3 separate regions of the Homo sapiens genome follow, and all the other regions are linked to region 1. The links come from fine-mapping of genetic effects on gene expression. A gene starts in region 1. Each other region holds a variant in brackets. All regions are shown on one strand. Distances are from middle to middle.

What was found. PIP is the estimated chance that this variant, and not a neighbour inherited with it, causes the effect.
Region 2: its variant is the best candidate, but not a certain one, in a credible set for the expression of ANKRD34A in whole blood (TOPMed, PIP 0.56).
Region 3: its variant is the best candidate, but not a certain one, in a credible set for the expression of ANKRD34A in whole blood (TOPMed, PIP 0.73).

The regions. Positions count from the first base shown.
Region 1 is chr1:145,960,553-145,968,161 of GRCh38, reverse strand. ANKRD34A (ankyrin repeat domain 34A) reads left to right here and starts at 3,587. Exons shown (of 4, transcript NM_001039888.4): 1 at 3,587-3,978; 2 at 4,625-4,852; 3 at 5,194-5,741; 4 at 6,283-7,609. The coding sequence starts at 6,403. It overlaps POLR3GL (RNA polymerase III subunit GL), which reads right to left and starts at 3,472. Exons shown (of 8, transcript NM_032305.3): 1 at 3,394-3,472. RefSeq lists enhancers at 3,576-3,745, 7,144-7,193, 6,395-7,230, 7,594-7,609 and a silencer at 4,061-4,355.
Region 2 is chr1:145,913,335-145,920,943 of GRCh38, reverse strand. PEX11B (peroxisomal biogenesis factor 11 beta) reads left to right here and starts at 2,227. Exons shown (of 4, transcript NM_003846.3): 1 at 2,227-2,311; 2 at 3,128-3,243; 3 at 3,926-4,127. The coding sequence starts at 2,256. It also overlaps the pseudogene GNRHR2. RefSeq lists enhancers at 1,492-1,591, 1,642-1,701, 2,082-2,181, 1,980-2,527, 2,528-3,074. The variant C/T (reference allele first, on the strand shown) is at 3,107.
Region 3 is chr1:145,930,649-145,938,257 of GRCh38, reverse strand. It overlaps LIX1L (limb and CNS expressed 1 like), which reads left to right. Exons shown (of 6, transcript NM_153713.3): 4 at 559-654; 5 at 1,273-1,350; 6 at 1,706-4,835. The coding sequence ends at 1,948. All of the region lies in intron 2 of LIX1L-AS1 (LIX1L antisense RNA 1), which reads right to left. Among named protein-coding and RNA genes, the nearest start is that of RBM8A, 7.0 kb to the right of the region's middle. The variant TAA/A (reference allele first, on the strand shown) is at 4,085.

The DNA.
Region 1 (7,609 bases):
ACCCCTGTACTCTGTTTTACTCCAAACAACACTCATATACACTATGCTCATTCCCAATTATTCATACATATATATTGTGGTGGAAGTTACTGAGAGGCAGGTTTCAACTAAACATACAGAAAAACACTAACAATTACATCAAATTTAAGGAAGGCAGTACATGTAGAGGTTAAGAATATGGTTTTGAATCCCAGTTCAATTTCCTAGCTACAAAACTCTGGTAATTTATTTATTGTCTCTAAACCTGTTTCCTCATCTGTAAAATGGGAATAAAAATAACAATAATAGAATCATTTCACTCAACAAATATTTACTGAGTGCTTACTAGGTGTGCCAGGCACTGTTCTAGATTCTATGGATATAGCAGTGTGCAAAACAGACAAAAACATGCTGCACCCACGGGGTTTAAATGGAGCTTTCATTCCAGTGGAGGCATCAGCAAACAAACAATACTTCAAGCCATGAGACTAGGTGAGACCCCTAAAGGAGTGGATGTGGACAGAGAAAATAAGAAATCCAGGCACTGAGGCCTGGGGCACGCTGATGTGTAGAATTTGCTATACATGTAATAAATAAAGCAAGAAATTAACACCCTTAAAATCTTGGAAATCCAAATTTTAAAAAATCATCTCAATAGAAAAAATGGGCAAAGGACATGAACAGGCAACTGGCAAAGAGAATGGCCATGTCTGGACATGGTGGCTCACTCCTGTAATCCAGGGTTTTGGGAGGCCGAGGTGGACAGATCACTTGAGGCCAGGAGTTCATGACCAGCCTGGGCAACATAGAGAAACCCTGTCTCTACTAAAAATACAAAAAATTAGCCAGGCACAGTGGTACACACCTTTAATTCCAGCTACTCAGGAGGCTGAGGCATGAGACTCACTTGAACACAGGAGGTGGAGGTTGCAGTGAGCTGAGATCTCACCACTGCACTCCAGCTTGGGCAACAGAGCAAGACTGTCTCAAAAAAAAAAAAAAGGAGAGAGAATGGCCAATAAAACCACTCTTCACCTATGAAAGTGACAAAGATTTAAATAATAAGCAGGCTGTCATGAGTTTTTTTTCAAATGGACACTCTCATACCTCACTGGAAAGACTATAAACATAATATTTCAAGGGGAGCAATTTGTCCAGTTAAATCAACAGCCTTTGAAATGTTTATATCCCTAATCCAGCAATCCCACTTTAAAAATATATTCCAAAGACATCAACAGATATACAGTCACAGATATAAGTAAAAGGATATTCATCAAAGAGCTATTTATGGTAGCAAAAATTCTGAAATAACTGAAACAATCTAACAATAAATGAATGGTTAAAAAATACCCATTTTATTTATTTATGTTCTTTTTATTTTATTATTTTTTTTTTGAGACAGTTTCACTCTTGTCGTCCAGGCTGGAGTGCAATGGCGCAATCTCAGCTCACCGCAACCTCCACCTCCTGGGTTCAAGTGATTCTCCTGCCTCAGCCCCCCGAGTAACTGGGATTACAGGCATGCGCCACCATGCCTGGCTAATTTTTTTTGTAGTTTTAGTAGAGATGGGGTTTCTCCATGTTGGTCAGGCTGGTCTTGTACTCCTGACTTCGTGATCCACCCGCCTTGGCCTCACAAAGTGCTGGGATTACAGGCATGAGCCATCACGCCCGGCCTCTTTTTTTTTTTTTTTTTTTTGAGACAGGTTCTTGCTCTGTCGCTTAGGCTGAAGTGCAGTGCAGTGGCAATTTTGGCTCACTGCAGCCTCGACTTCTCCAGCTCAAGCAACCCTCCACCTCAGCCTCCTGAGCAGCTGGAACTACAGGCCTGAGACACCATGCTTGGCTATTTTTTTTGTAGTTTTTGTAGAGACAGGGTTTTGTCATGTTGCCTAGACTGGTCTTGAACTCCTGGGCTAAAGTGATCTGCCTACCTCAGCCTCCCAAAGTGCTGGAATTACAGGCATGAGCCACCACGCCCAGCCAGAAATGGCTTGCTTTTAAGAATGCTACCAATTCCACTGTAAAAGGACAGATTTCCTTTTTTTTTTTTTTTTTTTTTTTTTGAGAGGGAGTTTTGCTCTTGTTGCCCAGGCTGGAGTGCAATGGTGCGATCTGAGCTCACTGCAACCTCCGCCTCCTGGGTTCTAATGATTCTCCTGCCTCAGCCTCCCCAGTAGCTGGGATTACAGGCATGCGCCAACACGCCCAGCTAATTTTTGTATTTTTAGTAGAGACAGAGTTTCTCCACGTTGGTCAGGCTGGTCTCCAACTCCCGACCTCAGGCGATCTGCCCGCCTCGGCCTCCCAAAGTGCTGGGATTACAGGCATGAGCCACCGTGCCCAGCCATATTTCCCTCTTTTACAGTGGAAGTGTGGAATGCATTTCCTTTAGCTATATATTTCTTATTTAGAATATTTGTAGGATATTGACTAAAGAACAGGTATCAAAAAATTGAATGATCTACAAGAGAGATAAGAGAGTTCCCTTACTAAAGATGTTTACATAGAAGCTGGGTAAAAATTTACTACATAGGGTTTGTAAGAAGGATGCATGGCTCTAGTAGAGGATTCCCTATGATCAGCATGATTTAGCATTGTGTCTGGCATATAGTAGGTGCTCAATAAATATTTATTGAATGAATAAATACATCATTTCTATGGGCCTTTCCAAACTTGAGAAATTGTGATCCATAAAGCCTCCCCTCACCATTCCAGTTCTCCTTGCTTTCTTCCTTCTCTAGATTGTAGAAACAATTATGAAACACTAATATTATGAACCACTAATTTAATGGCTCTTAATTACATACTGTATTGTCTTTTATTGTTCCCTAGTTATGTTAGGAGTTTAAATTCTGCCTCCCCAAAAAGAGTGCTAGTTACCAGAAATCAATTCTATTTAACTAACGTTTATTGGGCACTATATATTAACTACTAGCACCTGTCCTACAAAACCTTCTATTCTAAAAGGCATAGAAACGTTAAAGAGAGACAGTGCACTAAGTGTCCTAATAAAGGTATATACAAAACGCTATCGTAGACGGGGGAACAATTCATTTTGCAAGAAAGGCGGCCCAGGAAAACTACAGGTAGCATTTCAGCTAGTCTTCATAGATAACAGGAGTTTGTCAGGCTCTTGGGATAATATTAATAGATTAGGGGGAAGTTGATGCTATAGCAAAGACAGATACAAGAGGCTGTCTCGTTTTCTGCTTTAATGTCTCTCCCCATGCGCGATAGAAAACTGCCATTCTCTAGTATACAATCAATACAGAAATGGAAGCCCAGGGGAGAAACGGTAGGGAGCCAGAAGGGGGCTGATCCAACAACCTGACGGAAAGCGTTGTCTATTTCGCAGCCTGGCCGGGGTGAACAAGTTTGGCAAGTGTCGGACCGAACCAGGTCAAGCCTTACCTGCTGCCCCTCCCCAAAGCGGAGCCCAAGCCGCGACCAACTTGAAATGTACTGGGCTTCCTCAAGTCGGTGGCGTTCTAAGCCCGCCTCCCGGAGCTCCCTATTGGTGAGTTTTCTCGGCCAATGCAGGAGAAGCCGAGGAGGGAAGTCCGCCCTCTTGAAGCCTAGGAAGAGAAGGAGGGAGGGAGCGAGTACGCCCGGAACCGAAGCTTGCGAAGCGGGTCGCAGAGAGAGATGGGCGTTGCAGAATCAGCTGGGGTCACTTATTTCCGGTCTCACTCCAGATGAAGGAGCCACTAGCCGGCGAGAGTTCACCGAGGGAACGTGACACTCATATCTCATCGAGGGACCGTGTTGAGGGAGCCCCTACAGAGAGGCCAAAGGAGGAGAGGGCCTACGGAGAAATGAACCTCTGTAAAAGCTGCTCTTTAGGGATCAGTCTTTTTGTGACTCTAGCTTCATAGCTTGGTCTCTCCATTACTCCAGCCTTCCTTTCAATCATACACTGCCTCTCTCCAGCACCACCAATGGATACTTCTTTTCTAAAAATGTTTTTCTGTGGGTTGCTGCCGTGTCTGTGAGAAGGTGGGCAGAGGGTTCAAGAAAGGAAGGATTTGGGATCAGCGTACCAGGGTTGGGGAGACAGGGCAGGAGCCCAGCTTTTTCTGCATTTTCCACTACTTTCCACTTCCTGCGAGCTCCTTGGGAAAGCCAGCAGAGTGGAAGGAGGAGTCCTATTTTCACAGAAAGCAGAAACAAGGGAGAAAGGTTCAGAATGGAGATGAAATCTAGGAGTTAGTCAAGAAGAACATCCCAGATGTCAGAGAAAATGGCCTGTAGACTGGGAGGCTGTAGGTGTAGTGGCAAGCTCCCAGTCTTTGCCATAGGACAGAAACATAGCTGTGAAGCTTTGGAGAGCTTGCTTAACCTTATTAAGTCTGTTTCCTCATCTGTAACAAGAAGATGATAGTTCCTATCTTATAAAGTTGTGAGGATTGAAAATAGTGTATGTAAAGCACATGGCACATAGTTGACACGTGTCCAAGAAATAACTAGTAAAAATGGGTAGCTTCCTGCAAATATTTCTCTCTCTCTCCCATCCCCGGGAACATTATTTTCAGTATCTTGCATCTGGGGGGCCTCCAGCCTCTGAATTAGCTCAGGACCCTGAGTGAACTTTTTAAATCCTTAGGATTTTTCTTTTTCTCCCACTTCCCTTGGTGCCTTCCAGCTGGACACAAACTCATTCCTAAAATATGTGGATGGAAGCTATGGTAACCATGGAGACAGGGCAGGTGGCAAGGAGAGGCAGAGACAGTGTGAGAGACCAATAGACAGATAGGAAGAGAGAAGATATAAGGAATGTTTCAGACAGAGATCGTCAAGCAAGATGGAAAAAATAAGACGTCTAAGCAAGACTGAGATTAAAGAGATGCAATGTGAGAGAGTGTATTACAAGGTTCGCTCTTCTTCCTGCCCCTGTCCTATCTCCCTGCCCACAATAATACGGGGTGGAGGCACCTGGAATGTCCCTTGCCTTATCTAAAAGTGCTCCCATATCCACCTTCCTCATACTTATCTAAGAGGTCTACATAAGGGAGCTGAGGTCCAAGTTTCTCTGCGATGGGTGTTCCGTTTTTGAGAGATGGGGCGGGGGTGTATCTGTGTCTGACTCCAGGCTGGACCGTGATCTCCTTCACAATTAAACTACAGGAAGAAAGCCACATCTCTTGCCTCTCTTTGCACAGTATGGACACCGGCTGTGGATCCAAAAAGCCTTTCTACACCTTTCTTACACAGTGTGCCATGTGCCGTGTATGGCAGGTCAGGTCTGGCGCACAGGAGCGCACAAACACACCAAGTGCGGAGAATGGGGATCTGCTGAATCTCAGCGAAGAATCTGGATGATGGTCCCTGTCTGGGTCGCGGAGGAGTCCCCTAAGGAACACTTAGGTTTGTTGGGGCTGAGGGGAGGTCGGCTGAGAAAAGGAAGTCAGGATTGGAGCCTCTAGGTTTTTGAGGGTTTATGTGTGCATGAGTGGGGGAGCAGTTTGGTGCCTGACGCCCCCACCCGCAGTGACTAGGCTATAAATAGCACAGCAGAGCTCCGCCCCCCCCCCCCCCCCCCCCCCCGCCAAGCTTCTCTCCTCCCGAGCCGGCGCTGTGCCCGGGGCGCTCCGGGAGGAGGGACCAGGATCCGGCGCCGGGGCGCAGATACTGACACCAAGGGAATCCGGGTGCCCCCCCCCCCACGCCATGCGGGCCCCCAGGAAACTGGCTCCGCCACCTCGGCTGCCCCGTGGCCACGGCCCCAATCCTGGCCAGGCGGAGATTCTGCGGACATTCAGGTATCTATCTGGGCACACAGCCTGGGAGGGGAAAGAGCAAGGAGTGATGGGGAACATCGCAGGGGCAATAGAACCCCCCAATTCTCCCTCCACCCGTTTTAGGTCTCAAATGCAGGCTGCTTCCCTCCCCCCACTCAATTTTTGGGGTTGTGGCAAGCTAAAACAGGTTAGGAATGAGAATACATGTGTGACTGTAGGGTGCATGTATGTGGGTGGGTGGCGTTCAGCATCCTAGAAAGGGGGATCCCAAGTGTGGATAAGACAAGGGGGACAGAGGAAAGGTCTGATAAGCCATGGGGTGAGGGTGGGGGTGCGGACATCCCTGCGCGTGCACGAACGCATTTGCACGCGCGCTAGTCCTTCAGTGCGGGTGCACCCTTCCCACCTCCTCAGGCATGCGCTGCGGGGGAAGGGCCGGCTCAAAGGCATGAGTTAGAGGAAGGACTGTATGCCGTGAAGGTCTCCTCCACCCCACGCTGGGTCCCTGCATCTGTGCCTCAGTTTTCCTGCCGAATCTATCAATGAGATGTCTCTCTTGCAGGGATCGGCTTCGTCACTGAGACCTCAGGCCTCTGCCAGCCACTCCCCCTCCCCATACCCCTAGTCATCCTCGGCAGGTCTCAGTCCCGGCTCCATCTGTGCCCTCGCCCCAGCCGCAGCTATGTTGCACACCGAGGGCCACGCTCTTCTTCGGGCGGTGGGTCAGGGTAAGCTACGCTTGGCCCGTTTGCTTCTGGAGGGAGGCGCCTACGTGAATGAGGGTGATGCGCAGGGGGAGACTGCGCTAATGGCAGCCTGTCGGGCCCGCTACGACGACCCCCAGAACAAGGCACGCATGGTACGCTACCTCCTGGAGCAAGGCGCGGACCCCAATATCGCAGACCGATTAGGGCGCACGGCGCTCATGCACGCTTGCGCCGGGGGTGGGGGCGCCGCGGTGGCCTCGCTGCTCCTTGCCCACGGCGCAGACCCCTCAGTCCGAGATCACGCGGGCGCCTCGGCTCTTGTCCACGCCCTGGACCGCGGGGACCGCGAGACCCTTGCCACACTGCTGGACGCCTGCAAGGCCAAGGGTACGGAGGTCATCATCATCACCACCGATACCTCGCCCTCAGGCACCAAGAAGACCCGGCAGTATCTCAATTCTCCACCATCCCCAGGGGTGGAGGACCCTGCTCCCGCCTCTCCTAGCCCGGGGTTCTGCACGTCGCCTTCGGAAATCCAACTGCAGACCGCTGGAGGAGGAGGGCGTGGGATGTTATCCCCTCGCGCCCAGGAAGAAGAGGAGAAGCGGGACGTATTTGAATTCCCTCTTCCTAAGCCCCCCGATGACCCATCCCCTTCCGAGCCGCTCCCCAAACCACCACGCCATCCCCCAAAACCACTCAAAAGGCTCAACTCCGAGCCCTGGGGCCTAGTGGCCCCTCCTCAACCAGTCCCACCCACTGAAGGGAGACCGGGGATCGAGCGCTTGACTGCCGAATTCAATGGCCTGACCCTGACCGGTCGACCCCGTCTTTCCCGACGTCACAGCACCGAAGGCCCTGAGGACCCGCCCCCATGGGCGGAGAAAGTGACTAGCGGGGGTCCTCTCTCTCGCCGAAACACAGCACCAGAAGCTCAGGAGTCTGGTCCCCCTTCAGGGCTGAGGCAGAAACTGAGCCGCATGGAGCCAGTGGAGCTGGACACCCCTGGACACCTTTGCCCTGACTCGCCTGAGTCCAGCCGCCTGTCCCTGGAGCGCCGCCGATACAGCGCCTCCCCGTTGACCCTCCCTCCAGCCGGCTCGGCTCCCTCTCCGCGCCAGTCCCAGGAGAGTCTGCCAGGGGCAGTATCTCCGCTAAGCGGAAGGAGGCGGAGTCCGGGGC
Region 2 (7,609 bases), 47 kb after region 1:
TGGAAGAGGCACAGATAGAGGATACTGTTTTTACAAGGCAGGCTCTTTTATTATTATTATTATTATTATACTTTAAGTTTTAGGGTACATGTGCACAATGTGCAGGTTAGTTACATATGTATACATGTGCCATGCTGGTGTGCTGCACCCATTAACTCGTCATTTAGCATTAGGTATATCTCCTAATGCTATCCCTCCCCCCTCCCCCCACCCCCCAACAGTCCCCAGAGTGTGATGTTCCCCTTCCTGTGTCCATGTGTTCTCATTGTTCAATTCCCATCTATGAGTGAGAACATGCGGTGTTTGGTTTTTTGTCCTTGCAATAGTTTACTGAGAATGATGATTTCCAATTTCATCCATGTCCCTACAAAGGACATGAACTCATCATTTTTTACGGCTGCATAGTATTCCATGGTGTATATGTGCCACATTTTCTTAATCCAGTCTATCATTATTAGACATTTGGGTTGGTTCCAAGTCTTTGCTGTTGTGAATAGTGCCGCAATAAACATGTGTGCATGTGTCTTTATAGCAGCATGATTTATAGTCCTTTGGGTATATACCCAGTAATGGGATGGCTGGGTCAAATGGTATTTCTAGTTCTAGATCCCTGAGGAATCGAAAAGGCAGGCTCTTAACAGATGTAAATTAACATACAAATAATCTTACAGAAGAGAGAGCAGAGGTAGCAGGGTGCGGTGGCTCACGCCTGTAATCTCAGCACTTTGGGAGGCTGAGACAGGTGGATCATGAGGTCAAGAGATGGAGACCACCTGGCCAACATGGTGAAACCTCGCCTCTACTAAAAATACAAAAATTAGCCGGGCATGGTAGCGGGCGCCTGTAGCTTCTCGGGAGGCTGAGGGAGGAGAATTGCTTGAACCCGGGAGGCGGAGGTTGCAGTGAGCCGGCAAAAAAAAAAAAAAGCAAGCAGAGGCTTACTCCCTGAGAATTAATGGCTAATGGCCCCCAAGCGCACCCTTTAACTCATGCTATGGACCCAAATCCCTGTCCTGCCCGGTCCTGAGTCCTAGGTCACTCACCTGGGGGAAGGCAAGCAGGAAACTAAGTCCCCAGGCTGCCCCCAGAAGTTTCCTTACACCTGAACGGGATCCAAGCGGGTTGAGTACTGCTGCCTGGCGGTCCAATCCAATGACCACAGGCAGGAAAGCTGCAGAATACGTGGCCATTAGTTTCAGGAACATCAGTGTCCGACATGCGATGTCCACAGCCAGCCATTGAACAGTGATATTCCAGGTGGCATCTAGGGGCATAACCACAAAAGTGACTAGTAAGTCGGCGGCTGCTAAATGGATGAAGAGTCTCCTGACCGGAGAGGGGCGGAGCTGGCTGGGTTCCCGCCGTGTCACTGACCACAGGACTGCCAGGTTCCCTCCAGCCGAAGAAACAAACAGCACAATGGTCACTCCCACTCGGACCTTGGCTGCTGCCGAGAAGGTGGGCAGCTCTGAGCCCTCCACCTCCACTCCTGATCCAGCCCAGACCTCCTCCCCCGCTGCTGACCCCAAGGGGTGCCGTTGCCTGCAGACATGGTGGCCTGGAGAGAAACTGAGGAGGATGAAGTGTGGGTATGAAGCGGTTAGCTTTGGCCACTGATTCTTCGCCCTCCTTTTCAGGATCTGGAGCTGATTATTGCGAATTTCGTTCACTAAAGCCTCTGCTTCTGGAGACTCTCCATCTGTTCTGGAGGAGGTCACTTGTTCAACTGTCAAGGTTCTGCAGGGAACGAAGATCTGGTACCAATCACGCTCCTTTTTCCTTGGACAGACCAGCCTGGGCTTCAGGCCTCTACTGACCTAGACCTCTTTAGCCCCTACAGCCCTGGATTCAGTCGGGGCCTGCGTGCATGTGTATTTGTGAGGTTCTGCCAGGCGCACACCTATGCCGGCGGCCTCCAAGACGTGGAGATCACTGCGGCGCTTTCTCGCCCCGCCCCGGCCCCTGCAGGCCCCGCCCTTGGTCATGAATATTTAAAGAAGAAGGTGCCGCTGGAGGCGTGCTAGGGAGTAGGGGTCGTCTGATAAGGGGAAGCTGTGACGCAGACACGCACAGTAATACACAGATGGAGGCTCAAAAGACACGAGTTTCGCGTCCTGAAATTCCGCTTCCAGGGCCAAGCTTTCTTTTCTGATACTGTTTGTCCCTCGCGAGGCACCGTTGGGTCGCGCAGTAGGCGTGACTAGGGGCGGGAAGTGGGGCGGGAGCAGGGCCGCGGAGCCTGGGCTGCGGCTGTCATGGACGCCTGGGTCCGCTTCAGTGCTCAGAGCCAAGCCCGGGAGCGGCTGTGTAGGTGCGGCCCGAATAGGAATGGGGGTGGGGCGGGGGAGGGATGGACAGAGGAAGACTCTAGTGAGGCGAAGTCAGTTTAGGCTACAGGGGGGTCAAGAAGGGTCAACTCCGGCTACGGGGGCCCGAACGGACCGTGAGGCGCAGATTTGAGCCGCTGTTGAGATGATTCCTTTCCGTTCGCGGAAGAGATGGGGAAACTGAGGCATGAGTGGGCCAGCGGGGAGGCCGCTCAGGGTTGCTGTGTCCACATAAGACCGACAGTGTCCTCACTGGGCGGTGATGGAATGAGGAGCATTCGCCCCACGGTGGATAGCCCCAGACTCTGCCCCCAGAGCTGAGGAGGCACTCCCAGTTTCCGTGTCCCCACACCGTGCTGCCATTCGGGAACTCCCCTGCCTCCGCCCTGGCGTTTGGTCTCCATTCAGCTAGAGGGCCTTGAAATCTCTCAGTTCACCTATTCTGAGGAATAAAATGCCCTCCAACTGTCTGCCTCCCCCTCATCGATCACGTACATGCTCACGCTGATGTGCTTGTGATGGACCCCTGCGGCCTGCACTGGCCCCTTCAGGCCTCATCATTGTCAAATCTCTAATTTGCTCAACATTCAATAGTGCTCCCCACCCCTTTCTAGACTCTTTTTTCTCCTTATGCCTTTCCCTTCCTCTGGCCTGGAGAAATGGTGAGATATGGGCATGGAGGAGGAAGGGGAGTGTTCTCAAACTGGGAAAGGGGGAAGTCTGTCTGTGCCTTTTGGAAGATAGTTTTGAGCGGAAGGTTAGGGAGGTCTCCACCTTAC[C/T]TTGCCTGCCCTCTCCTCTAGGGCCGCCCAGTATGCTTGCTCTCTTCTTGGCCATGCGCTGCAGAGGCATGGAGCCAGTCCTGAGTTACAGAAACAGATTCGACAACTGGAGAGCCACCTGAGCCTTGGAAGAAAGCGTAAGTAACTCTGTCTTTCCTTTTATCCCCCAACCTTTCCTCCATCCCCAGCTCACCTTCCTTTGTCCCTCCTTCCTGTACCCTCTCTGTTCTTCTTTCTCATTTGGCTCTGCACTTACCCTCTGCATGAGTCCAGTTGAGATAAGAGAGCAGGGGTATGGAAGTAATTAGGCGGACTGGAGAGAATGGGTCAAGTTTGAGAAAACTAAACTGGCACAAAAATTAAATTTGAAATTGAAAAATGGACTGTTTCTGCTCTTTATTTTTTATTTTTTTGAGACAGAGTCTCTCGTCCAGGTCAGAGTGCAGTGGCGCAATCTTGGCTCACTGCAACCTCTGCCTCCCAGGTTCAAGCAATTCTCCTGTCTCAGCCTCCTGAGCAGCTGGGACTACAGGTGCCCACCACCATGCCGGGCTAATTTTTGTATTTTTAGTAGAGATGGGGTTACACCATGTTGGCCAGGCTGGTCTCAAACTCGTGACCTCAGGTGATCCACCCACCTCGGCCTCCCAAAATGTTGGGATTACAGGCTTGAGCCACCATGCCCAGCCTGTTTCTGCTCTTTAAAAAAATTGTCATTATTATTGCTCAACTTTTGCCCTCTTGCTTTCTCTGTTTCTGTTTCTTGTTATCTGCCTCTCCACTTACAAATCCTTGCTTTCCCTTTCTAATCTCCACAAGTTCTACGCCTGGGTAACTCAGCAGATGCCCTTGAGTCAGCCAAAAGAGCTGTTCACCTATCAGATGTTGTCCTGAGATTCTGCATCACTGTTAGTCACCTCAATCGAGCCTTGTACTTCGCCTGTGACAATGTCCTGTGGGCTGGAAAGTCTGGACTGGCTCCCCGTGTGGATCAGGAGAAGTGGGCCCAGCGTTCATTCAGGTTTGATATCCTGTTCTCCTTTAAGATTTTTTTTTGTAGCCTCTATATTGCATAGCTTGTCTTATATGAGGGAAAGATATCTTAGGATCTTTCCAGAGTATATAAGTCTTGATCAGTCACTTGGCTTCCAATCACTTAGATCTTAAACTATCGGAGAATATCAAATGGGGAGAGATGGAAGACAGATGCTCTTCCATAATGAATGACTAATATTGTGCAAGGTAAGATATTATATCACTTTAATTGTGCTTCTATACCACAGGTTATTCCCCCTCACTACCTGCTTACTCATTCATTCCAAAGATATTTATTAGATGCTTACTGTGGCGCAGGGGATAAAGCAAAGAGCTAAACAGATAATGTGCCTGCTCCCATGAAGCTTCTAGTTTAGTGAGGGAGTTAGATACTACAATGAATAACTTCTCATATATATTTGTGGAAAAGTATGCGGTATTATGAAAGAATATCACAAGGGGAGCTAATTTAGATTGGAAAATCAGGAAAAAACTCTTTGAGAAAGTAATATTTTAGCTCAGACCTGATGTCTGAGTAGGAGGAGTTAGACAAAGCCAACAGTAGCAGAAAAGACATTTCCAAACAGAGAAAATTGCACATTCTAAGTAAGGCTTTGAACTAAGAAAGACTTAAGGGAATTAGAGAAATAGAAAGAAAGCCAGTGTGATTGACAGTATTGAGTCCATCAGTTCAAATTTGAGAGATAGACAGGCACCAGATCTTTCATACAGGGCCTTTTAGGCAATGTTAATGTTTGTTTTATTTTATCCTACAATGGGACATTATTGAAGGATTCTGAGCAGGGAAATGACATGATTCAAATTGTGTTTAAAGGACATCTCTTTTTGAGATGTTGAAAATGGATTGCAGGCCGGGCGCAGTGGCTCACGCCTGTAATCCCAGCACTTTGGGAGGCCGAGGTTGGGGGGATCACGAGGTCAGGACTTCAAGACCAGCCTGGCCAACGTGGCAAAACCCCGTCTCTACTAAAATTACAAAAATTAGCCAGGTGTGGTGGCGGGCACCTGTAATCCCAGCTACTCGGGAGGCTGAGGCAGGAGACTCGCTTGAACCCGGGAGGCAAAGGTTGCAGTGAGCCGAGATCGTGCTATTGCACTCCAGCCTAGGTGACAAGAGCAAGACTCCATCTCAAAAAAAAAAAAAAAAGAAAAGAAAAGAAAAGAAAATGGATTGCAGTGGGTCAAGAGAGGAGGAGATGCCCTAATACGAGCAAGAGATGACGTTGGCTTGGACAAAGGAGGTAGCTGACAATAAAGGTAGAGAGAAATATGATGTGGGAGTAAAATTCTCTAACATATTATCTGTATTGTTTTTCGTTTTCCTATGATTGTACTTTTTCATTATATTAACCTTGCTTTTCCCTTCATCTTTCTCAGTGATTTACAACTTTAACATGGCTTATGATGTATGAGGGGTGGGAGCAGAGGCATGGCTGGAGCAGTATGGAAAAGCAACTCCCTAAAGGAGTCTATATGTTATATTTATTCATTTCATCCAACAGATACTTACTGAGCTCTTACTATATGGTAGGCACCAGTGTACATACAGGGATACAGTGGTTAAAGATAAACAAGGCCGGCCAGGTGCGGTGGCTCATGCCTGTAATCCCAGCACTTTGGGAGGCCAAGGCGGGCGGATCACCTGAGGTCAGGAGTTTTGAGACCAGCCTGACCGGCATGGAGAAACCCCGTCTCTACTAAAAATACAAAATTAGCCGGGTGTGGTGGCGCATGCCTGTAATCCCAGCTACTCGGGAGGTTGAGGCAGGAGAATCGCTTGAACCCGGGAGGCAGAGTTTGTGGTGAGCCGAGATCGTGCCATTGTACTCTAGCCTGGGCAACAACAGTGAAATACCGTCTCAAAAAAAAAGAAAAGACAAACAAGGCCTCTGCTCCTCTGGAACTTACCTTGTAATGGGATGAGATAAACATAAATAAACAATAAATTAAAATATCAGATACTGGTAAATGTTATGCAGGAAATTAAAACAGTGTTATGGAGTAGAGAGTAACTGACTCAGTGCTTTAGATTTAGGGATAAGGGAAGGCGTCTCCGAAGAGGTGATACTTAAGCTCATACCTGAAGAGCAAGAAAGAGCTAGCTATGTGAGGGTTTTGGAGGGAGAATATTCCAGGTGGAGGGAGAATATTCCAGGTAGAGGGAATAGGTAGTGCAAAGGTCCTAAGGCAAGAACAAGCTTGATGGGATTAAAATGTAGAAGGAAACCAACATGGTTGGAGCATAATGATTGCAGGAAAGAATGATACAAGGTAAAGTTAGAGGGGTAGGGACCAGATGTTGAGTCTGTAAGCCTCTCTAAGGTATTTATATTTTATTATGAATGTGACAGGAAGAAAACCATGGAGAGCTGTGGTTTGTTTATTTGTTTTTGGTTTTTTTTTTTTTTGAGATGGAGTCTTGCTCTGTCGCCCAGGCTGGAGCGCAATGGTGCAATCTCAGCTCACTGCAACGTCCATCTCTTGGGTTCAAGTGATTCTGCTGCCTCAGCCTCCTGAGTAGCTGGGATTACAGGCACGCGCCACCACACCCAGCTAATTTTTGTATTTTTAGTAGAGACAGGGTTTCACCACGTTGGTCAGGCTAGTCTCCAACTCCTGACCTCATGATCCACTTGCCTCCACCTCCCGAAGTGCTGGGATTATAGGCGTGAGCCACCACGCCTGGCCAACCATGGAGAGTTTTAAGAAGGGAAGTAATGATGTGATTTATGTTTATGCTAGCTATTATATGAAAATAGATTGTTGGGGGTGGGGGCAACAATGGCCACAGTGAGACCAGTTAAAACATTAAAGCAGAAGTCCAGACAAGAGATGTTAGTGGCTTAGAGTATGGCAGTGCGGTGTGATAGAGAGATGTGGTTGGTTGGGTTCAGGATATACTTTGAAGGTAGTACAAGTTATTGAGTACAGACCACCATTGTCAGATTGGATTACAAATAAAAAACATGGATTTTTTACTGAAGAAATTTATAATTTAACACATTTGGCAATTACTTAAACCTCTGGGCCTCTAAAGGAATAGGGATTGGATTTAGATCACCTTTAATATGTTTGAGTCTCTGAGACATCTGAAATTTGTTCTTTCAAAACAAGTTTGCCTTGTTATAGGTCAAGTTGAGAGAGAGATGGAGAGTGTGTGTGTGTGTGTGTGTGTGTGTGTGTGTGTGTTGCCAAGTGGAAAATGAAATTTGAGATTGACCTTGGAAGATTTCATGATGCTCATGGAGTTTAAACCAGGATCTTAAGGTGCACATAAACATGTATTAGTTACAGAATGTTGGGAGGACTTTGTTTCTTCATTTTTATTGGGACATAATTGACAAATAGAAATTACATATATTTAAGGAGTTATAGCTCGATGTTTGTACATGTACGTTGTGACATGATCACCACAGTCAAGCTAATTAACATATCCATCACCTCACA
Region 3 (7,609 bases), 30 kb after region 1:
GAAAGTCAGTACAAAAATGTAAAATATTTCATTAATAATGTTTATACTGACTACAGTTGAAAAATAATATTTTGAACATATTGGGTTAAATAAGATATATTATTAAAATTAATTTTACTTGTTTTTTTTTTTTTCTGAGACAGAGTCTCACTCTGTTGTCCAGGCTGGAGTGCAGTAGCCCGATCTCTGCAATCTCCGCCTCCCAGGTTGAAGTGATTCTCCTGCCTCAGCCTCCTGAGTAGCTGGGATTTACAGGCACCCACTACCATGCCCGGCTAATTTTTGTATTTTTAGTAGAGACACGGTTTCACCATGTTGGCCAGGCTGGTCTCAAACTCCTGACCTCAAGTGATCTGCCCACCTTGGCCTCCCACAGTGCTGGGATTACAGGCATGAGCCACTGCACCTGGACTTACCTCTTTATTTTTACTTTAATGTGGCAGAGAGGAAATTTTGAATTAAATATGTGGCTTGCATTATATTTCTACTGGACAGTGCTGCTTGAGATGATAATCCTGGTTGAAAATCTATTTGTCTTTTCTGTTCCTCTACTACCAGGGCAACAGGGAGGAAGCTGACAACCCAAATACAGGGATTGGTGCCTTCCGATTCATGCTGGAATCCAACAAGGGCAAATCAATGTTGGAGTTCCAGGTACTTTCCCATGTACTTCCCTGGTTCTAATAACATGGGTCAGCCTGCTACTGTAATATATAATGGCTCCTACTAATTCCTAACTCATTGATACTGGAAAAGAAAGAAGGTTGTTACACTATTTTTCAAAAATAAATACCTTCCTGGCTGGGCATGGTGGCTCAGGCCTGTAATCCCAGCACTTTGGGAGGCTGAGGCGGGTGGATCACTTGAGGCCAGGAGTTTGAGACATGGCAAAGCCCCGTTTCTACTAAAAATACAAAAATTAGCTATGATGGCACATGCCTGTAATCCCAGCTACTTGGGAGGCTGAAGCACGAGAATTGCTTGAACCCAGGAAGCAGAGGTTGCAGTGAGCTGAGATTGCGCCACTACACTCCAGCCTGGGTGACAGAGCAAGACTCTGTCTCAAATAAGTAAGTAAGTAAGTAAATAAATAAATAAATAAATAAATAAATAAATAAATAAATAAATATTTTTCTTCCCCAAAGGCCTATCAGAGTTAGTGATGAGAGATGCTTCTACAAATCCATTTTGTAAAAGGTTTCCCATGTAATTCTGATGCAACCTCCCAATATAAAAATCACTGTCCTGGTACTTCCTATCCTCTTCCCCCAGGAGCTAATGACAGTTTTTCAACTGCTACACTGGAATGGCAGCCTTAAGGCCATGAGGGAACGACAATGCTCTCGGCAGGTAAGAGATTTTATGAGTGGGGGCGAATGAGGGGAGCACAATCTGTCAGTGGACTCTTTTGAGGTGGTTACTATGTTAGAAATAAGGTCTATTGTGACCTATGGTTGTGAATATTGAAAGCCTTACCTAAGTACCCTCTTCATTCCTATAATCTTTCCTGTGTAAATATTAGCTGTGATTCTTTTGTCTATCTTGCTTCCCGTAGCAGGAAGTGCCTTTAAGAATCTCCTTGAAGAACTTAGGTGCTGACCTCAGTTAGGTCTCTAAAGCTGAGTTCTTAGTCCCAGTTGGGTCAGTGTGGTATGATATGAACCTTTACCTTCTCAATGATGTTCACATTCCCCTCCCCTACTAGGAGGTGTTGGCTCATTATTCGCACCGGGCCCTGGATGATGATATTCGCCACCAAATGGCCTTGGACTGGGTGAGCCGGGAGCAGAGTGTGCCGGGGGCACTGTCTAGAGAGCTGGCCTCTACTGAGCGGGAGCTGGATGAAGCCCGACTGGCAGGCAAGGAGCTGCGCTTCCACAAGGAGAAGAAAGATATTCTTGTGCTGGCTGCTGGGCAGTTGGGCAATATGCATTCTTCCAACTGCTAGGCATCCACCCACATAACTCCCCAGGCTTTCCACAGCCTTTTTTTATGTCTCCTTTCTAAGATTTAGGATGATTTTTTGTACATACTTTCTCATTTTTATACTTTAAAAAATATATATGTGTATAAATTCTACACCTAGATTCCTATTTGCTAAGAGATCCCTTTTCTTACTACCAGTTTTTGGATGTAGTTTTATTTGAAACATCTTCAGTCCACTTTACAACAAAGAGCAGCTTGTCTTTGCAGCTTTGTTAGCTCTTAAACTTCCAGATTAACTGTGTAGCCATTTCAGTAGCACTAAAAGATTAACTCTAGTGTTCATGTGTCCTTCTTTTCAAATATCAGGTAACTTGAATAAGGATTATGTGCCCCACCCTTACTCTCATTCCTGCTTCCTCTTGGACTCAAACAGGGTATGAGTATGAAGATTTTGCCTTTAGTTCCTGAACTGAACCTGCTTGCTATCCCTTTCCTCCCCACCACTACCTTATTCCTTCTCTGCCTCCAAATTGCCACTTTGTTTTGAGGCTTCCTTCCCTACCTTATTATTCTGAAGGAAGTAGAGATCTTGCTTCTGAAACCCCTCCTAAGAAACTGCCCAGGGACAAGATAAATTACAAACAATTCATGGGAGTTTACTACCTAAGTTGCTTCTAGGGCATATGTATACCATACTAGTAGTCTAGATTTCTGGATATACTCTACAGTAGATGGGGGTTATGGTTGAAACTGATTCTCTTTCAGTATTCCCTCTAAACATCTCCCCTACTCCCCCAGCTTAGTTAAACCCTGCGTTTGGACCTTCCTGCCTGCAGCTATTAGTAGAAAGTAAAACATATTTCCATATTTCCCTTCACCTAACATTTTATTTTTTGGAAGCGTTATCAGTCCTATTTGGTTAGTGAGAACCATGTTCCCCTTATTCCCGCTAAGTTGCTGCTGTTTACTACCTTAGATTCTCATTTGTTTTCTCTTTCTTTCCTCTCCTTCCACATTAATTATTAGAACATAAGTTGATCAGGAAAATTAAATGAGACTTTAGTATTTTGGCACTTCCTAATTGACACCTTGGGAGACTGCAGGAAGGGAAAGAGAATCAATGATCAGTTATTTGTGTGTGTGTGTGGTTTTTTTTTTTTTTTGGAAGACAGAGTCTCACACTTTTGCCCAGGCTGGAGTGCAGTGGCGTGATCTCGGCTCACTGCAACCTCTGCCTCCAGGGTTCAAGCGATTCTCTTGCCTCAGCTTCCCGAGTAGCTGGGATTACAGGCACACGCCACAACGCCTGGCTAATTTTTATATTTTTAGTAGAGACAGGGTTTCACCATGTTGGCCAGGCTGTTCTTGAACTCCTGACATAAGGTAATCCACCCGCCTCAGCCTCCCAAAGTGCTGGGATTACAGGCGTGAGGCACTGAGCCTGGCCTATTTGTGGTTTTTTTTTGGTTTTGTTTTTGTTTTTGTTTTTGAGACGGAGTCTTGCTCTGTCGCCCAGGCTAGAGTGCAGTGGCGCGATCTCGGCTCACTGCAACCTCCGCCTCCCAGATTCACACCATTCTCCTGCCTCAGCCTCCCGAGTAGCTGGGATTACAGGTGCCCACCACCACGCCCAGCTAATTTTTTGTATTTTTAGTAGAGACGGGGTTTCACCATGTTAGCCAGGACGGTCTCCATCTCCTGACCTCGTGATCCACCTGCCTCGGCCTCCCAAACTATTTGTGTGTTTTTTTTTTTTTTGAGACGGAGTCTCGCTCTGTCGCCCAGGCTGGAGTGCAGTGGCGCTATCTCGGCTCACTGCAAGCTCCGCCTCCCGGGTTCACGCCACTCTCCTGCCTCAGCCTCCTTAGTAGCTGGGACTACAGGCGCCCGCCACCATGCCTGGCTAATTTTTTTGTATTTTTAGTAGAGACGGGGTTTCACCGTGTTTGACAGGATGGTCTCGATTTCCTGACTTCGTGATCCGCCCGCCTCGGCCTCCCAAAGTGCTGGGATTACAGGCGTGAGCCACCGCGCCCGGCACTATTTGTGTTTTTAACACCATTCTCCCCCACTTCTCTCCTGGGTGACATAAGAGAGAAATAACCTGTAGTACAGCAGCTAAAGTATTCTCCTTTCAGAGAATTTTTTTGGAGGTCTC[TAA/A]TATATATTTCCCCCTTGTCTCTGTGATCTCTTATTTATACTATATTATTGTCCCATGTACTTTCTAAACTGAGCTTGGAACATTTAGTATTCCTGCAATTGGACTTCCCACTTAACAATTATACAGACTTTGCTTTTAGAAATAGATTAGGTTCCAAACAGAAAGTTCAAGTGTAACAACAACAATAAAAATAGATTATGAAACAGGCTATAATTGGCTCTTTTGGATTTGATAGGGGCAAGATGAAAGGCAACTTTCTTGCTTTTGAAATCATGTTGGGTAAGAGGTAAGGAATCCAGCTACAATTTTATTAGTGCTTGAAACGGGCTTCCTTGAATTCTCCAGGCCCTATCATTTTTTTTTTCTTACTAATCAGAAGAGAGCTGGGGTAGAAGCCCCATGTTTGTATTCCATGAAACACGTCGGGTTGGAGTAAAGGCAAAAACAGCTAGACACACCAGGTGTGTCTGTTTGACATTTATAAGCTGGCACTCATCAACACTCCTGTTTCTCCTTTCTCTGGGACGTGTGGATTAAGGGGTGTGAGTTGTGGGAAGAATTGCCCTCGTACCTCCTGGATTTATTATTTTTCTCAAATACCAACCAGTAAGATCCCAAATAACTTGAGAAAAATTGTTTCCTGATCTGTCCACTTCTGGTGTCAAAGATTTTACTCATCTTCTTAGTACATTCTATGTATTTTATATGTATAATTTTATACAATTAAAAATAGATTTTTGTCTAGTGAGCCAGACTGACTCTTTCTTGAGACCTATATATTACAAAAGTGAAGGGGTGGGTTGCCCCTCCACACCTGTGGGCGTTTCTCGTTAGGTGGAACAAGAGACACAGAGACAAAGTATAGAGAAAGAAAACTGGGCCCAGCTGACCAGCGTTCAGTATACGGAGGATCCACGCCAGCCTCTGAGTTCCCTTAGTATTTATTGATCATTATTGGGCGTTTCCCGGAGAGGGGGATGTGGCAGGATCATAGGATAATAGTGGAGAGAAGGTCAGCAGGTAAACACGTGAACAAAGGTCTCTGCATCATAAACAAGGTAAAGAATTAAGTGCTGTGCTTTGGATATGTATACACATAAACATCTCAATGCCTTAAAGAGCAGTATTGCTGCCCGCATGTCCCACCTCCAGCCCTAAGGTGGCTTTCCCCTATCTCAGTAGATGGAATATACAATCAGGTTTTACACCGAGACATTCCATTGCCCAGGGACGAGCAGGAGACAGATGCCTTCCTCTTGTCTCAACCGCAAGGAGGTGTTACTTCCTCTTTTACTAATCCTCCTCAGCACAGACCCTTTACGGGTGTCGGGCTGGGGGACGGTCAGGTCTTTCCCTTCCCACGAGGCCATATCTCAGGCTATCACATGGGGAGAAACCTTGGACAATACCTGGCTTTCCTAGGCAGAGATCCCTGCGGCCTTCCTCAGTGGTTTGTGTCTCTGGGTACTTGAGATTAGGAAGTGGTTTGAGATTAGGGAGTGGTGATGACTCTTAACAAGCATGCTACCTTCAAGCATTTGTTTAACAAAGCACACCCTGCACAGCCCTTAATCCATTTAACCCTGAGTTGACACAGCACGTGTTTCAGGGAGCACAGGGTTGGGGGTAGTGTTACAGATTAACAGCATCTCAATGCAGAAGAATTTTTCTTAGTACAGAACAAAATGGAGCCTCCTATGTCTACTTCTTTCTACACAGACACAGTAACAATCTGGTCTCCCTTTCTTTTCCCCACAAGAAGCTCTAAAACATCCCTGTTCTTTTACATATATACTAAAGAAGAATTTTTAGGCCAGGTGCGGTGGCTCATGCCTGTAATCCCAGCACTTTGGGAGGCCGAGGCGGGTGGATCACGAGGTCAGGAGTTCGAGACCAGCCTGGCCACCATGGTGAAACCCCCATCTCTACTAAAAAAAATTAAAAATTAGCTGGGCATGGTGGTGGGCGCCTGTAATCCCAGCTACTTGGGAGGCTGAGGCAGGAGAATTACCTGAACCCAGGAGGTGGAGGTTGCAGTGAGCCGAGACTGAGTGATTGCACTCCAGCCTGGACATCAGGGTGAGACTCTATCTCAAAAAAAAAAAAAATTTTATTAGCATTTTTGGGGTGGTAGAAATGATTGCATAAGGCAGCCTGCCTCCCTTTCTGCAGATATTTAACCTGGAGTTTGTCCTTGGTCTTTTCTCCTCAAGCTCTACCTACTCCCACTGGCAATCTCACCCATTATGGTGACTTGAACTCCACTATACACATGACTCTCAAATCTATTTCTTCCTCCCCAACCTGTTTTAAGCTTTTACATTTACTTTCCACATACTTGACACGGCCATCTGAATATGACAAAAGCACTTTGAAACATATCGAAAATAAAAAACATTTCTCCATACTCATTCCTCTTTGACTCTCTAGATTATTCGAATTATTATTATTCTTATTATTATTATTTTTGAGACGAAGTCTTGCTCTTGTCCCCCAGGCTGGAGTGAAATGGCGCGATCTCGGCTCACTGCAACCTCTGCCTCCTGGGTTCAAGCGATTCTCCTGCCTCAGCCTTCTGAGTAGCTGGGATTATAGGCGCCCGCCACCACGCCCAGCTAATTTTTGTATTTTTAGTAAAGATGGAGTTTCACCATGTTGGCCAGGCTGGTCTCGAACTCCTGACCTCAGGTGATCCACCTGCCTGGGCCTCCCAAAGTGCTGGGATTACAGGCGTAAGCCACCATGCCCCGCCGATCTATTATTAGAATTATTATCTACACTGTTACCTAAGCCACACACCTCAGATCCACCCTCAACTCCTCTACCATAATGTAAATATGTTGTTTTTGAGACAGAGTTTTGCTCTTGTTGCCCAGGCTGGAGTACAATGGTGCAGTATCAGCTCACTGCATCCACTGCCTCTTGGGTTCAGGAGATTCTCCTGCCTCAGCCTCCCAAGTAGCTGGGATTACAGGCACCCACTACCACACGTGGCAAATTTTTTTATTTTTAATAGAGATGGGGTTTTACCATGTTGGCCAGGCTGGTCTCGAACTCCCGACCTCAGGTGATCCGCCCGCCTCAACCTCCCAAAGTGCTGGGATTACAGGTGTGAGCCACTGCGCCTGGCCTACCTCCTAATATGTTTTGTCCATATTTACTGCCTGAGCTTAGGTTTGGTCCTTTCTCATCTCCAGACTGGATCACTACAATAGCTTCCTAGCTGGTCTTCACCTCCATTCTTAACATCCTCCATACTACTGTCATATTTCTTTATAAAATACTTATGACTGTGACACTCCCTTGCTTAAGCCATCACTGAACTATCTTTACCTTTAGCAGCATTTCCCAAAGTTTTTTTTTATTTTTTTTGAGACAGGGTCTCACTCTAATGAGCAGGCCAGAATGCAGTGGCGTGATTTTGGCTCACTGCAGCCTCCACCTCCCAGGCTCAAGGAATCCTCCCACCTCAACCTCCAGAGTAGCTAGGTCTATAGGCACACACCACCACACCCAAGTAAT